Linked DNA regions of Homo sapiens: region 1 is linked to region 2. The links come from fine-mapping of genetic effects on gene expression. A gene starts in region 2. The other region holds a variant in brackets. All regions are shown on one strand. Distances are from middle to middle. Region 1 overlaps ATP2A2 (ATPase sarcoplasmic/endoplasmic reticulum Ca2+ transporting 2). Region 2 holds the start of PPTC7 (protein phosphatase targeting COQ7).

What was found. PIP is the estimated chance that this variant, and not a neighbour inherited with it, causes the effect.
Region 1: its variant is the best candidate, but not a certain one, in a credible set for the expression of PPTC7 in blood mononuclear cells (TOPMed, PIP 0.66).

Annotation. Positions count from the first base shown.
Region 1 is chr12:110,302,702-110,311,038 of GRCh38, forward strand. All of the region lies in intron 5 of ATP2A2 (ATPase sarcoplasmic/endoplasmic reticulum Ca2+ transporting 2), which reads left to right. Among named protein-coding and RNA genes, the nearest start is that of ATP2A2, 26 kb to the left of the region's middle. The variant G/C (reference allele first, on the strand shown) is at 3,478.
Region 2 is chr12:110,578,398-110,586,734 of GRCh38, forward strand. PPTC7 (protein phosphatase targeting COQ7) reads right to left here and starts at 4,921. Exons shown (of 6, transcript NM_139283.2): 1 at 4,412-4,921. The coding sequence starts at 4,634. RefSeq lists an enhancer at 1,257-1,506 and silencers at 4,554-4,703, 4,744-5,073.

The DNA of each region.
Region 1 (8,337 bases), 280 kb before region 2:
GATTCTTGTGCCTCAGCCTCCCAATTAGCTGGGCTCACCAGCATGCACCACCACACCCAGCTGATTTTTGTAGTTGTAGTAGAGATGGGGTTTTGCCATATTGGCCAGGCTGGTCTCAAACTCCTGGCCTCGTGACCCACTCACCTCGGCCTCCCAAAGTGCTGGGATTACAGGCGTGAGCCACCGTGCCTGGCCTATTATTATTTTAGTTAAGCCCAGCTGTGTGAGACATTGGGCTCTTAAGTGCTGCTTGCTTTCGTCTTAAATTGTGACCTTTTTAACTGAGTAATGCAGAACAGACATCTAGGTTTAGAATGTATGTGGGCATTTTATTAAATACTGTTGTCATACTACTAGGCAGTGAGCACCTTAAGGACAGAACTGTCATATTGACTGTTGTAACGTTATCGTAAGTTCTCTATGAATGAAATTTGAAATCAGAAGTATATGATAGGCTCAGCTAATGTAAACATAGTTGCTGTGCAGAACAAACAGTTGAAGTGTATGTGTGTGTTCAATACAATTATTATTATAATATTATACAGACAGAGTCTTGTTCTGTCACCCAGGCTCTAGTGCAGTGGTGTGATCTCGGCTCACTGCAACCTGTGTACCTCCCAGTTTCAAGTGATTCTCCTGCTTCAGTCTCCCGAGTAGCTGGGATTACAGGCTTGGGCCATTATGCCTGGCTTGCTTGCTTTTTTGTTTGTTTGTTTGTTTGTTTGTTTTGAGACGAGTCTCGCTCTGTTGCCAGGCTGGAGTGCAGTGGCATGATCTTGGCTCACTGCAACCTCCGACTCCCTGGTTCAAGCGATTCTCCTGCCTCAGCCTCCCGAGTAGCTGAGATTATAGGCACGTACCACCACGCCCAGCTAATTTTTGTATTTTTTAGTAGAGACGGGGTTTCACCGTGTTGGCCAGGATGGTCTCAAGCCCCTGACCTCGTGATCCATCCTCCTCGGCCTCCCAAAGTGCTGGGATTGATTACAGGCATGAGCCACCGCGCCCAGCCACGCCTGGCTAATATTTTTGTATTTTTAGTAGAGGCAGAGTTTGGCCATGTTGGCCCGGCAAGTCTTGAATTTCTGGCCTCAAGCGATCCACCTGCCTCAGCCTCCCAAAGTGCTGGGATTACAGGCGTGAGCCACTGCACCTGGCCTTCAATACAATTATTGAATGCCAGATTATTAGTATATTCAAGGTCTGTGTGATCCTCATTATTATCTTAATTCCAGAACATTTTCATCACCCTCAGAAAAACCCATACCCATTAGCAGTTGTTGCCCTGTTTTCCTCCCACCAGTTCCTGACAACCACAGTTTATTATCTGTTTTGTGGATTACTGTCTGTTTTTCTGGATATTGCATATAAATGGAGTCAATCTTGGTGACTGGCTTTCTCTTAGCATAGTGTTACATTTCGTTCATGAATATAGCATGTATTTCATTCCTTACTGCTGAATAATGTTTATTAGTTGATGGACATTTGGGTTGTTTCCAGTTTTGGTCTATTATGAGTAATGAATAGTGCTATAACTTGTACATACATGCTTGTACTAATTTTTGTGTGAACATAACATTTTCTCTCTGTTAGGTATGTACCTAAGCATGGAATTATGGGGCCTATAGTGACTCTATACTTAACATTTTGAGCAGCTACCAAACTGTCTTTCAGAATGGTGGTGATATTGTTCTACATTCCCACCAACAATGTATACAAGTTCCAGTTTCTCTACATCCTTGTCAAGACATGTCATTGTCTATCGTTTTAAAGTTTTACCCAGGAAGTGAGTATCATTGTGGTTTTGACGTCCGTTTCCCTAATTTCTTAATGATGTTGGGCATCTTTTCATGTGGCTATTGTCCATCGGTGTGTTTTCTTTGGAGAAATGCCTGTTTAAATTAGGTTATTTGTCTTTTTAATGTTGAGGTATAAGAATTCTTTACATATCCTGCCTTATGAGGTGTGATTAGCAAAATTTTTTCCCCATTCTATAGGGATTCCTTTTTTTCACTTTCTTGATGGCATACTTTGTAACATACAAGTTTTTAATATGATAAAGTCCACTTATACATTGTTGTTGCTTGTGCTTTTGGTGTGATGTCTAAGAAACTGTTGCCAATTGAAGGTCACAAAGACTTTATATATTAGCCAGTATATATGATCCAGGCGTCGTGGCTCATACCTATATGATCCCAGCACTTTGGGAGGCTGAGGCAGGAAAAACCACTTTTTTTTTTCTTTTTGAGACGGAGTCTTGCTCTGTTGTCCAGGCTGGAGTGCAGCGAGTGGCATGATCTCGGCTCAGTGCAACCTCCGCCTCCTGGGTTCAAGCGATTCTCCCGCCTCAGTCTCCCGAGTAGCTGGGATTACAGGTGCACACCACCACACTCAGCTAATTTTTGTATTTTTAGTAGAAACGGGGTTTCACCGTTTTGGCCAGGCTGGTCTTGAACTCCTGACTTCAAATGATCCGCCTGCCTCAGCCTCTCAAAGTGCTGCGATTATAGGCAAGAGCCACCATGCCCAGCCTAGGAAAAAAACACTTTTAAATTAGCCAGGCAAGGTGGTACAGGCCTGTAGTCTCACTACTCAGGAGGCAGAGGTACGAAGATGACTTGAGCCCAAGAGTGGAGGCTGCAGTGAGCTACTATGATCCTGCCACTGTCCTCCACCCTAGGCAACAAAGCAAGACCTTGCCTCTTTAAAAACAGCAACAACAGCAAAAACTATGGTGTGAGGTAGGAGATCCAGCTGCTTTCTTTTGCATGTGGATATTTAGTTGTCTCAGCACCATTTGTTGAAAAGATTTCTTCACTAATTTGTCCTGCAACCTTTGTGAAAAATTAATTTACAAATGCAAGAATGTATTTCTAGACTCTATTCTTACTCCATTGATCTCTGTCTTTAGGTCAGTACCATACTGTCTTGATAGCTAGCTGTCGTTTTGTATTTTTTGAAATTGGGAACTTGGGAGTGTAACTTTGTTCAAGATAATTTTGGGCATTCTGGGTTCCTTACATTTACATATAAATTTTTAAGAGTTGCTTGTCAATTTCTGCAGAAAGCAAGCTGGTATTTTCAGTAAGAATTGTGTTGTATCTATAGATGAGTTTGGGAAATATGGTCGTAATATCAAGTCTTTGGATCCATGAGCATAGGGATGTCTGTTTTTTTTTTGTTTTTTTTTTTTAAGGTCTGTCATTTCTTTCAACACTGGTTGTCAGTGTTCAAGTCTTGTGCTTCTTTTGTTATTGCATTTTTGGCGGGGGGAATATTTGTAATTGGAATAATTTTTTGTAACTTGAAATTGGCCTATTGGTGATATTTATTTATTTATTTATTTTTGAGACGGAGTCTCGCTCTTTCACCGCTATGACAGGCTGGAGTGCAGTGGCACGATCTCTGCTCACTGCAAGCTCCGCCTCTCGGGTTCACGCCATTCTCCTGCCTCAGCCTCCCCAGTAGCTGGGACCA[G/C]AGGCGCCTGCCACCATGCCCAGCTAATGTTTTTGTATTTTTAGTAGAGACAGGGTTTCACCATGTTAGCCAGGATGGTCTCGATCTCCTGACCTCGTGATCCACCCGCCTTGGCCTCCCAAAGTACTGGGATTACAGGCGTGAGCCACCGCGCCCGGCCTAGTGATATTTATTTTTAATTAAAATTTTTAGATTCAAGGTACATGTGCAGGTTTGTTATGTGGATTTAATGTGTGATGCTGAGGTTTGGGCTTCTGCTGATCCTGTCATCCAGATGATGAGTATAGATGATGAGTATAGTACTTCACAGATAGTTTTTCAGCCCTCGCCCCTCTTTCCCTCCCACTTTTTGGAGTGCCCAGTGTTTATTGTTCCCATCTTAATGGCTATGTGTACTCAGTGTTTAGCTCCTACTTACAAGTGAGAACAGACAGTATTTGGTTTTCTGGGTTAACTCACTTAGGATAATAGTCTCTGGCTGCATCCATTTTGCTGGAAAAGACATGATTTCATTCTTTTGCATGGCTGCGTAGTATCACATGGTGTATATATACCACATTTATTTTTGAGATAGGGTCTCACTCTGTCGCCCAGGCTGGAGTGCAGTGGTGCGATTTTGGCTCAGTGCAACCTCCACCTCCCAAGCTCAAGCCATCCTCCCACTTCAGCCTCCTTGTGAGTTCAGGCCATCCTCCCACCTCAGCCTCCTTGTAGCTGGAACTACAGATGCCCACCACGCCCAACTAATTTTTGTATTTTTCGTACAGATAAGGTCTCACCATGTTGCCCAGGCTGGTCTCGAATTCCTGGGCTCAAGTGATTCACCCACCTTGGCCTCCGAAAGTGCTGAGATTACAGGTGTGAGCCACCACGCCCGGCCACAATTTCTTTTTCTTGGGATATATACCCAGTAATGGGATCGCTGGGTTGAATGGTCATTCTGTTTTTAGTTTCTTGAGAAATCTCCAAACAGCTTTCCACGGGGGCTGAACTAGTTTACATTCTTGCCAGCAGTGTATAAGTGTTCCCCCCAGCCCCACCACCTTTTTTTTTTTTTTTTTCTTTTTTTTTGAGGCAGGATCTCAGTCTGTTGCCCAGGCTGGAACACAGTGGCATGATTATAGCTCATTGAGCCATGGCTTTCCAGGCTCTAGTGACCCTCCCACCTGAGCCTTCCAGGTTAGCTGGGACTGTAGGCACACACCACTATGACAGGCTCATTTTTAAATTTTTTCGTAGAGATGAGGTCTTACTATGTTGCCCTGGCTAGTAGTTGAATTCCTGGGCTCCAGTGATCCTCCCACCTCAGCTTCCCAAAGTGCTGGGATTACAAGCGTGAGCCACCGTGCCCAGCAATAATAGTCACTCTGACTGGTGTGAGATGACATCTCATTGTGGTTTTGATTTGCATCTCTCTACTAGTGATGTTGAGCATTTTTTCCTATGTTGACTACTTGATTGTTGTCTTTTGAGAAGTGTCTTTTCATACCCTTTGCCCACTTTTCAACAGTGATTTTGTGTGTGTGTTTGTGTGTGGATTTAAGTTCCTTATAGATTCTGGATATTAGTCCTTTGTTGAGTGCATAGTTTGCAATTATTTTCTCCAATTCTGTAGGTTGTCAGTTTACTCTGTTGATAGATTTCTTCTGCTGTGCAGAAACTCTTTCGTTTAACTAGGTCCCAATTGTCAAGTTATTTGTTGCATTTGCTTTTGAGGCTTAGTCATAAATTCTTTGCTTAGGGCAGTGTTGAGAAGAGTATTTCCTAGGTTTTCTTCTAGGATATTTACAGTTTGAGGCCTTACATTTAAGTCTTTAATTTGCCTTGAGTTAGGAATTCTTTTTTCAATTTCATTTTCAGATTGTTCTTTGCTAGCGTGTAGAAATAGTTTTTTACGTATTGATCTTGTAGTTTGCCATCTTGCTGAACTCATTAGTTAGTTTTAATAGTTTTTATGGGTTCCTTAAGATTTTCTATATACAAGATCATGCATTTGCAAATGAAAATGTTTTTACTTCTTTCTAGTCTGGATGCCCTTTATTTCTTGCCTAATTGCCCTGGTTAGAATCTCCAATACAACGTTGAAGTACCAAGAGCAGACATCCTTGTCTTACTGATCGTAGGGGAAAGCATCCAGTCCTTCACAGTGAAGTGTGACATAGGTGTGGGTCTCATAGGCGGGTGCCCTTTATCATGTTGAGGAAGCCTAGTTACAGCTGTAATATTTAGGTTGTCAGTATACTCTGGTGACCTTTCATGGTGTTTGTAAACTTATATGCAAATCAGAAATGATAGTTTGCTGGGTTACTAGGACCAGCAGGTCATTGAATTGGGTAAGATATAATTCTAAGGCATTTGCAACTATTATATGGAACATTTTGGAAAAGCATACCGTGACTGTATAACCTGGGCCAGATAAATAGGTATTTATTTTATTAAGACTATACACGTTGAGCCTTTTAAACTTCCACCTCTTTTAGAATTAGTAATCAAATTGACTGTGCAATCTAGCATTTAGCCTGATAATTCAGTTTTGTGAAAACTATAGAGTGAACTTTAATTCTGAATTTTTTCTTGTCAGTCGAAGGTACTATTTGCGTAGCCTGAAAGATTAAATGGCATAAATTGTGCTTTTAGACATGGTGACTTTTATATTTTCATTTACATTATGAAATTGGATGTGAAGGGGTTTTTCAGATGTGTTGGAAAACTGGAGAGTGTTGTAAACTAATTCGAAGCTGAAAATAAAAAAGTACTGACTTAACGATTTTGATATTTGCAGAAAGGAACAGACCTTTTTGTAGTCACTGTTTGGAATGTAAGGGTCATCTCCTGACTTTAAAATTCTTTGTCAGCTTTTGGAAGATATCTGGTAGGATGGTTCTGGCTGAACTTTTCAAAGACTAAGCTGGAATAGGTGGTTTTTTGAGGGAGATATGGAGAGAGAGTTTAAGGAAACTAATTTTTTTTTTTTTTTTTTTTTTTTTTTTTTTTTTTGAGATGGAATCTCACTCTGTCGCCCAGGCAGGAGTGCAAGGGCGTGATCTCAGCTCACTGCAACCTCCGCCTCCTGGGTTCAAGCGATTCTCCTGCCTCAGCCTCCCTAGTAGCAGGGATTACAAGTGCCCGCCACCACACCCGGCTAATTTTTGTATTTTTAGTAGAGACAGGGTTTCACCATGTTGGCCAGGCTGGTCTCGAACTCCTGGCCTCAAGTGATCCGCCCGCCTCAGCCTCCCAAAGTGCTGGAATTACAGGTGTGAGCCACCATGCCCAGCCAGGAAACTAAATTTTATATGTTGCTATACCAGCTAATCATTCCAAAGAGAAACTGGGTAAGCATACATAGCAAATGCTAATGTGAGTCTTAAGTATCTAGAACACAAGAGCCAAATGAAATTGATATGGCAAATAAAAACATGGAGAAAATAACCCGCACATAGGCTGTGCTCAGTGGCTCATGCCTGTAATCTCAGCACTTTTGGGGGAGGCCAAGGCATGCAGATCACTTGAGTCCAGGAGTTTGAGACCAGCCTGGGCAACATAGTAAAACCCCATCCCTACAAAAAATACAAAAATTAGCTAGGCGTGGTGGTGCGTACCTGTAGTCCCAACGACTTGAAAAGCTGAGGTGGGAGGATCACCTGAGCCCAGGAGGTCGAGGCTGTGGCAGTGAGCTGAAATTAAGCCACTGCACTCCAGCGTGGGCAACAGAGTGAGACCCTGACTCAAAAAAAAAAAAAAGAGAAAGTGACCCACATGTTCACCTCTTAAGAAGCCACAGTAATTCTACATTATCTTAAGGCCAAGAAAATATTTCTCCGGATGGATGGAAACCAAAAGTAGTGAAGTTGTACATAATCTTATAAGAAATGAACGTCATTGTTTTTAAGCTTTCTGTATTATCTGCTGACATGAAAGTGAATCAAGCTATAATAGCCTAAGTCATTTCTGTTTTCTTTTTTTCTTTTTCCTTTTTTTTTTTTAAAGTAGAGACGGGATTTTACCATGTTGGCCAGGCTGGTCTCGAACTCCTGACCTCAAGTGATCTGCCTCCCTTGGCCTCCCAAAGTGCTGGGATTACAGGCATGAACCACCGTGCCCGGCCATGGTTTTGTGGGATGTTTTTTTGAGACAAGGTCTCCCTGTATTACCCAGCCTAGTCTCAAACTCCTGGGCTCAAGGGATCCTCTTCCCTTGGCCTCCCAAAGTGCTGGGATTACAGGCATGAGCCACCATTCCCAGCTAGAAGTCTTAGTTTTAGAATTTTGGGGCTTCTAGTATATGCCGCAGGGGTTATTTATTGACTTCTTAAGAACACTGTTTTCAGGGTTGTTTAAAACAAACTTTATGTATCTTGGTAACCCAGGGTTGATGAATAGCACCAGGAAATAAATATTCTCAGATGACTTCTGTCTTGTAGTATATACTCTGGAGCGAATCATCTTTTAAGATTTAAGTAGTGGAAGCAACACAATCTTAAAATTGCATTTGCTTTAGCACTTGTACAGAAATTGATAATTTTATTTCCTAAAATGAAGACTTAATAGCCAACAGGGTGCCAGCAATTTCAAGATTTACTCGGGAATAAAAAGAATAATTCTTAAACTTGACAGCAATTTAAAGGAAGAAAACTTTCAATTTAAAGGAAGGAAACTTTTACTTCAGACAGTTAACATGCAGTACTGAGATTTAGTAGCAGGTATAAACTGCTTTTGAAGCAGTTGAGTAAAAGGCAGAGTTGTGAAATAGATGAGTGGATTCATATAAGAACCTGGATTATGATCCTAGTTCTGCATGACATTGGACTATGTACATTAACCTCTGCAGAATTAGGTAATTGGAGTACTGTTTCAAGGA
Region 2 (8,337 bases):
AAAGAGAAAGCACCTTTGACAATTTTCTAGAGAATGATAGGAGTGGTTCCTATGTCTCACCACACCCAACATAGTCAGTTTTTCCGAAACGAAATACAGTGGGGACTATACAAAATGTTGTGAAGCACCAAGCACTATTAGTCACTGCATGACTAATAGGACAGATCAATTTTAAATTAAAGAAACAAAAGAGATTTCTCTTTCTCATATAAAAAGAAAGAAACAGCTTTCATTCCAGTCAAGGAGTCCTAGATGACCACAGTGAATAATCTGTTACACGGATACTCAGTAATAAATATGGTGTCAATTCAAAGAAAATTAATTATCTACAGAACCAAAAGGTTCAAAAGCACTTAAGTTCAACGTAACGTTATTACTCAACATAGCCTTTTAATGTAATTCAGGTTGTAACTCCAACCTCTAGAGTTGACAGCAGTATTAAAGAGTCATTCAAAGTCATCACCTTAGCCAGACACTGTGGCTCACACCTGTAATCCTAGCACTTTGGGAGGCTGAGGCAGGTGGATGACATGAGGTCAGGAGTTCGACACCAGCCTAGGCAACGTGGCGAAACCTCATCTCTACTAAAAAAATACAAACAATTAGCCGGGTGAGGTGGCACATGCCTGTAGTCCCAGCTACTCGGAAGGCTGAGGCACAAGAATCGCTTGAAGCTGGGAGGCAGAGGTTGCAGCGAGCCAAAATCGTGCCACTGCACTCCAGCCTGGGTGGCAGAGCAAGACTCTATCTCAAAAAAAAAAAAAAGTCATCACCTTTTACGGTATCAACTAAATAGAAGTCACCATCATATGAACTGGTTCAGGACAGCCAAGGATCAAATGAGGCCAACTCATGAAGTTATTTCAGGTGGCTTCCAAGACTGCCGTCCGGAAGAGCTCCTCCACAACAGGACAGTCCTGGAGAACCTGTCCTTCACTGCCCCTATCCCCCACCATTTGCATATGTGCATGCTTGATCTTTGTCAAACATGGCTAACAACCACCTTTTGGTCACATCAGCTACCAGTATCTGACTGTGTCTGCTGGCATTCCCTTCAAGGGTACAGAGCTGGGGTTCTTGATCTGATTCCTATGCATGGACCTCCAGGTGGTATCAGAGGAGTCATGGAGTCAGCAAAGTTCCTAAGAGCCCATGCAAAATTTTATCTCTGTGCACAGGGTCCTGATCCTCAGGGGTTGTGAATCAAGGAAAGCTAAAAACCACTGGTTTAGTGCTACATACAAAACAGGAATCTACTGAAGGTGCCCGTGACACCTGTCATTTGAGGTGCAGAACAAAGGGTGCCATCTATTCAAAGCAAAAGTAAAATATGGGCTGGGCGCGGTGGTTCATGCCTGTAATCCCAGCAGTTTGGGAGGCCGAGGCTGGTGGATCACCTGGGGTTAGGAGTTCGAGTACAGCCTGGCCAACATGATGAAACCCCGTTTGTACTAAAAATACAAAAATTAGCCGGGCGTGATGGCGCGCGCCTGTAATCCCAGCTACTCAGGTGGCTGAGGCAGGGGAATCACTTAAACCCGGGAGGCGGAGGTTGCAGTGAGCCGAGATGGCGCCATTGCACTCCAGCCTGGGCAACAAGAGCGAAACTCCATACCCGCACCCCCCACCCACCAAAAAAAAAAAAGAAAAGAACAAAAGAAAATGTGATATGATGGTCAGAAGCTGTAGTCACTAAGGGTCAGATCGTCCATTCCCTTTATCCCCTAGTCCAGATAAACCAAAGGAGACTCAAGAGAGACTCTGCCCAAGACCACAAATCACAGAGCTACTAAGTGGCAAAGCTGAGCATCAAAGTTCACTGGATTTCCACCAGGATGTCAGGGCATGAAATTATGTTTATACTTTTTTAGAATGGGTTTGACCAAAATCCCCCCAATTCTTGTAAATATCCCACTCCATTAAGAAGGTAGCCTTCCAAAATTTTATTGTATTTTTTTTGAGACGGAGTCTTGCTCTGTTACCCAGGCTGGAGTGCAGTGGTGTGATCTCGGCTCACCGCAACCTCCATCTCCCAGGTTCAAGCAATTCTCCTGCCTCAGCCTCGCTAGTAGCTGGGACTACAGGCGTGTGCCACCACACCTGCCTAATTTTTGTATTTTTTAGTAGAGACGGGGTTTTGCCATGTTGGCCAGGCTGGTCTCGAACTCCTAACCTCAGGTGATCCGCCCACCTCCGCCTCCCAAAGTGCTGGGATTACAGGCGTGAGCCACCACGCCCGGTCTAGCCTTCCAAAATTTTAAAATCAAGCTTCCATATAGAATTTGATACATTTAAATACTCCCCAAATCATCAATCAAGTCACGGATCTTTCACAAAAGTCGCATACAGATTTTTTATTTTATTTTTTTTTTGAGACGGAGTCTCGCACTGTCGCCCAGTCTGGAGTGCAGTGGCACGATCTTGGCTCACTGAAGCCTCCACCTCCCTGGTTCAAGAGATTCTCCTGCCTCAGCCTGTTGAGTAGCTGGGACTATAGGCATGCGCCATCACGCCCGGCTAATTTTTGTATTTTTAGTAAAGACTGGGTTTCACCATATTGGTCAGTCTGGTCTTGAACTCTTGACCTCATGATCCACCCGCCTCAGCCTCCCAAAGTGCTGGGATTATAGGAGTGAGCCACCACGCGCAGCCCAGCATACAGATTTATGAGGTGAACCTTAGAGGCTCATTATCCCCTATCCTATGTTATGAACACAACTTTAAGAAGCAACACAGGGGCCAGGCTCACACTTGTAATCCCAGCACCTTGGGCGGCCGAGGCGAACACGAGGCCGATCACGAGGTCAGGAGTTCGAGACCGGCCTGGCCAACACAGTGAAACCCCATCTCTACTAAAAATACAAAAATTAGCTGGACATGGTGATGGGCGCCTATAATCCCAGCTACTCGGGAGGCTGAAGCAGGAGAATCGCTTGAACCGGGGAGGCGGAGGCTGCAGTGAGCCAAGATTGCGCCACTGCACTCCAGCCTGAGTGACAGAGGTAGACTCCGTCTGAAAAAAAAAAACGCAGCACAGGTCACAAGCTCATTGAGTGAGGCACTTCTAAATGTATCAGGGAAGACAGCCACTGACAGCTGACTTCGGGGTGGATTTGTACAATTTCAATCTGCAAGCTGCAGGACCTTTCTAAGTCTCCCTCTCATGTTAATATCAATAGCGTTGCCTAAACATTAAATGCTTTTTCTTCAACCCAGGTAATGGGGTCATTCATAAATTAAACTGAGAACAACCTTTCCAGTCCCATGTTCACAAACACTACATGTAGTAGAACCAAAGATACTAGGCAATTATTCTGAGATCAGATTAAAAAATAATTACTGTCATAAAAAAGTTACAGAATCATTTGTTCCAATGCCAAACTCTGCCTCAGCATATGAAATTTAAAGTAACCAAAAACTTAGTCTCACCTGGGAAGGGAAATCAAAGTGACATTTGAACCCAAGTTCAATGACAACACGTCCTTCAATTTCAAAGCGAGCGCATTGCTTTATTCATTCAAAGAGTTTTAACGGCACAATATCCCATAGCATACACAAAATCTCCTAAGGCGTACATTATGGTAAAGTTTCTGACTGCTTGTGAACTATATTTAGCCCTTTCTGCCAGCTCTCTCCGTAGTCTCCCACCCCCAAAAGGTATAACTGGAATAGGCCTCAGGGAGCACCTGTGGCCTGAAAAGGCTGTGACCAATCCTCAGAGCTTTACCGGCTGCAATCTACAAGTAGGCTCGACCATTCTATTTTGGATCAAGGAGACTCTGCCAACCCCCAAGTGACCGCAAGTGGACAAGATCAATTTGGGAGAAAACGCTGTGAGGGTTTTTTCGCCAAGCCAGCAGCCCCCACCGCCACACTCCGAAAAGGGTGAAGATTTGGTTACCATCCAGGCGGCGAAAGAATACGGCCGGGCTGTCTGGGGGCTCACGACTGCCTGTCGGCCGGCGATCCCGCAGCCTGGGCCGGGCTGTGGTGTCGGGAGCACGCGAAGAGGCAGGGATCCCCGGGGCATGCGGAGAGGGAACCAGAACGAGGTTAGGAGCCTGCAGGTGTCGCCCAGGGAGGGGACGAGGTCGCCCAGGGCTGGCACGGCCGAGTGAGACCGAGAGTGTGGCTCTGGACTCGGACAGACCGGTCACACTCTCGGGTTGTGACCTTGAGCACACGACTTGACCGCTGTGCGCCTTAGTTTCCTCCTCTCTAAAATGGGGGTCGTTCAAGCGGAAAACGCGCCTCGGAGCGCTTGGCACGGCGCCTGGCGCATAGTAAGCGCTCCCTCCATGTGAGCGCTCTGGCTCCTTTCGCCGCCGGGAGGAACTGGGGAAGCCCCGCGCGGGGAGTCCCCGGGAGGCGGATCCGAGGCTGGGGCAAGGGAACCGGGTCGGGGACTCACCGAGCACGTCCGCGGAACGGTGCCGGGCCACGAAGCACGCGTCGTCCCCGTAGCACGCGCCCTTCTTGAGGAGGCCCTTACGGAAGTCCTTCCCGAAGCCGCAGCCGGCCGTCACCAGTCCGTAGTCGCCGCCGCCGCCGCCGCCGGCCCTGGGGTCGGTCTGCGAGAGGCCGCCGAGCACGGCGCGGGCCACCAGCCGCCCGTACGAGAGGACCGAGAACATCGCCGCCGCCGCCCCCCCGAGGAGGCGGGGGGCCGGGGGAGCAGGAGGACGCGGAGGCCCGGAGCCGGCTCTCTCCTCAGCCGCAGTCGCGCCGCCGCTGGGGCGCTCCTCAGGGCGGCGCGCAGTGGCCGCCGCCGCCCCTGCCCGACGCGCGGGGCCTCGCACGCGCTCAGCCGCGCGCACCGGAGCCAGAGCGAGGTCAGAAGCGGCGGCTCCTCCGCCTCAGCCCAACTGAAGTCCCGGCTGCAGCGGCCGCCGCCGCCGCCGCCATCTTCCGCTCCACTAGCGTGTTCCGGGCGGTGCCGGCAGCACCGCCCCCTCCCTGGCCCTGCCCCTAGCCCCGCCCCGATTCACCGCTCAGGCCCAAGCCCAGCCCCTTGGGCTCGCTGCCTTATGCAGTCACCAAGGTTGAACATGCGCAGAGGGTGCGGACGCAGTGTCTCTTGGGAATTATAGTCCCGGAGTCGTAGTCACTTTTGACTTGGCTGCCAAAGATTTAGGACCTAGGGGGATTCCTCAGACGCGGGACCTATGTTAAGTTAGTAGGAATTGCAGGTGGGCCACGTGAGGGTTTTCTACCCTGTTTTAACCGTATCTTTTAAAGCCTGTTTTAAATAAATAACGCCACCATTCCTTTAAACAAAAACCTGCAAGAAACCAGAATGGAGTCACATAATGAGAAACAGAGGTACACAGATCTAGTGACACCTCCCCAAGTAATATACTGGAAGGATTTAGGGCGGCAAACTGTTTGGAAAGAAGAGACTTTTTGTAGTCTTTTAGGAAAAATTGAGAAAATGTTATGTGTCCCTATCAGAGTGGGAGGGGACACAGATGGTGTCATGTCCCTTTTGCTAACTGGCCTCTAGCCATGCTCACAGCTGTCTCAAGACCTTTGCCCTTGCTTTCGCTTCTACCCTTTGGAATGTAATTCGTTTACCTGAGGGTCCTGTGTTTTCTGTTGCTGTATCCCCAGAACACGTGAGCACCCAGTAAATATGTGAATGAATGAAAGAATGAATGAATATTTCACTAGATTCTAAGTTTCCCAAGGACAAGGATCATTTGCTGCTCAATTATTAGAATCTAAAGCAATGCCTGGCACACAGTAGGAGAGTGTGTAAATGTCTGTGGAATAAAAGAAGGAATAATGGGCTGGGCGTGGTGGCTCACACCTGTAATCCCAGCACTTTGGAAGGCCGAGGTGGGCAGATCACTTGAGGTCAGGAGTTCAACACCAGCCTGGCCAACATGGTCTCTACTGAAAATACAAAAAAAAATTAGCTGGGCTTGGTGACAAACGATTGTAATGCCAGCTACTCAGGAGGCTGAGACAGGAGAATCGCTTGAACCTGGGAGGCAGAGGTTGCAGTGAGCCGAGACAGCGCCACTGCATTCCAGCCTGGGAGACAGAGCTGGACTCCATCTCAAAAAAAAAAAAAGGAAGGAGTAATGGAATAAGAACACAAATGATAAAAGAAAGTCATGTTTGTTGAATACAGGAATGATTGAGTGAATGGGGTTCACAAACAACAGAAAATGAGCTTTGGGGCAAGTAATTCAATTTAGAGTAATTTTTAGTTTGATTGAAACATATATTTCTCAGAAACAGCAGTCTTTTTCTAGTTCACTTTTAACAAGACCATTGTTACTTTGGGGATTCCCACCTCGTTTTTAAATGGTCCTTTTTTATGCTTTCTTAATATATTTAAAATGCTGCCAACTATCAACTCAACACATATTATTCCGTTATCCTAATTACTGTCATCATTAAACACTTTTGCAGTTCACAGTGTGCCAAGTACTGTCTATATATATGTTTCTGTCTTTAAGAGCTTTCATCAAAATTGGACGGAAGAAATGACTTCACGTAGTGGCATTTTGTCAAATATACAGAACCCAGAAAATGTTCATTTACTGGATAAATGGTATAGTAATGACAATAATGCATTCACACCTTCCTTTTTTTTAATGGCACAAGAATTGGAGAGTGCCCAGAAGAGGGGGTAGTGCCTCTCGGAATCCTCTACTTGGCATTTATATTGCTGCCAGCTGTGCTAAAGGTAGCTCTTTCAAGTACACATACCACTACCAGATCCCAGTCAGTCTGGCAGGTAATTCTACCCCAAGGACAAACTTTTTAAAATAGCATGTCAACCCTATTTCTTGCCTCGTCAAACTCCTTCAGACTGCTCCTACTTTTCCTTTTCAGGGCATATATTACCTAATTTCCATGTCAGTCACAAGAACTGGTTTGATGGGATGAGTAGGAACCTAAAATGTGACTCTAAAGCCAGTAACTTCTGCTCCGATGGGGCTGCTGTTTTCATGATTAAGTGATACCAGTGCCTTGAGTTTCCGGCAAATGAATTTCCTGCAAGTGAGTTTCCTGCAAATGAGTTGCCCACAGAAGCACGTGGCGAACAGAATCCTTCTCAAAGCTCCTTTGCAAGTTTTAAAGGAACAGGAGATAGGGCCTCGGGTTCTCTTGAATCATTTATTCCAGAGCCAGCTCTGAAGTTTCATCACCATGGGGGAAGCCAGGAGAGGGTACTTTACAAAACACCTCCCTTCCCGTTCCTTCTCCCAGGAACACAATTCACGTTTGACATTTTGTTGGACTTAAAAAGGCCTGGATTTTCTTCCTTAACAGAGTTACATTCCTAGCACTTCAGGGATTCCTGAGAGGTCAGTTGCCACTCTTAAAGGTGAACAAGTGTGGTGAAAATACCATCTGGGCTCCCAGGGCACCTCTATGACATTAGGAAAGAGCTTTGCACTAAAGTCAGCCTCCGCTCCTAAAAAAACCAAACAAACAACAACAACAAAAAGAAGGCATGACATTTCCTAGTGAGATTTTCTGCCAGACTGGTAGGTTGATCTCTTTGGGTTCCTTTTTGCTAACCTATTCACAATGAGCACTAATTAGCTTACAGCAAGGTGTCTCAAGCTTGACACTATTGACATTTTGGGCAGGATGATTCTTTGCTGTTAGGGCTGTCCTGTGCATGCGTTGGAGGGGGCTTAGCAGCATCCCTGGCCTCTACCCACTAGAAGCCAGAAGCATGCCACCTCTGTGCCCCCAGGACAACCAAAACTGTCTCCAGATATTGCCAAATGTCCCCTGGGGGGCAAAATTGCTCCCTGATTTAGAGCCACTGTATTACGGCAATGCCATGCAAATGAGCAAATATTTGTTGAGCACTTATTATGTTCAAGTCTCTAGGCTAAGGATAAAAAAAATCAGTGATTTTGTGGCAGTCACAGTGCAGTAGGAAGGTTAAAATTAAGTAAATGTATTAAAATAATAATAACAGACTGGGTGCGGTGGCTAATGCCTGTAATCCCAGCACTTTGGGAGGCCGAGTGGGGGGTGGATCACTTGAGGTCAGAAGTTCGAGACCAGCCTGGCCAACATGGCGAAACCCTGGGTCTACTAAAAATACAAAAATTAGCTGGGAATGGTGGTGCACGCCTGTGATCCCAGCTAGTTGGGAGGCTAAGGCAGGAGAATCACTTGAACCCGGGAAGTAGAGGTTGCAATAGGCCAAGATCACGCCACTGCACTCCAGCTGGGGCAACAGAGCAAGGCTCTGGCTCAAAGTAAATAAATAAAATAATAATAAGCACCACAAGCTGAAATAAAGGAGGGGTCTGGGAAGGGGAAATGAGACCCTCTGGGGTTAGAGAACACCTGGGGCAC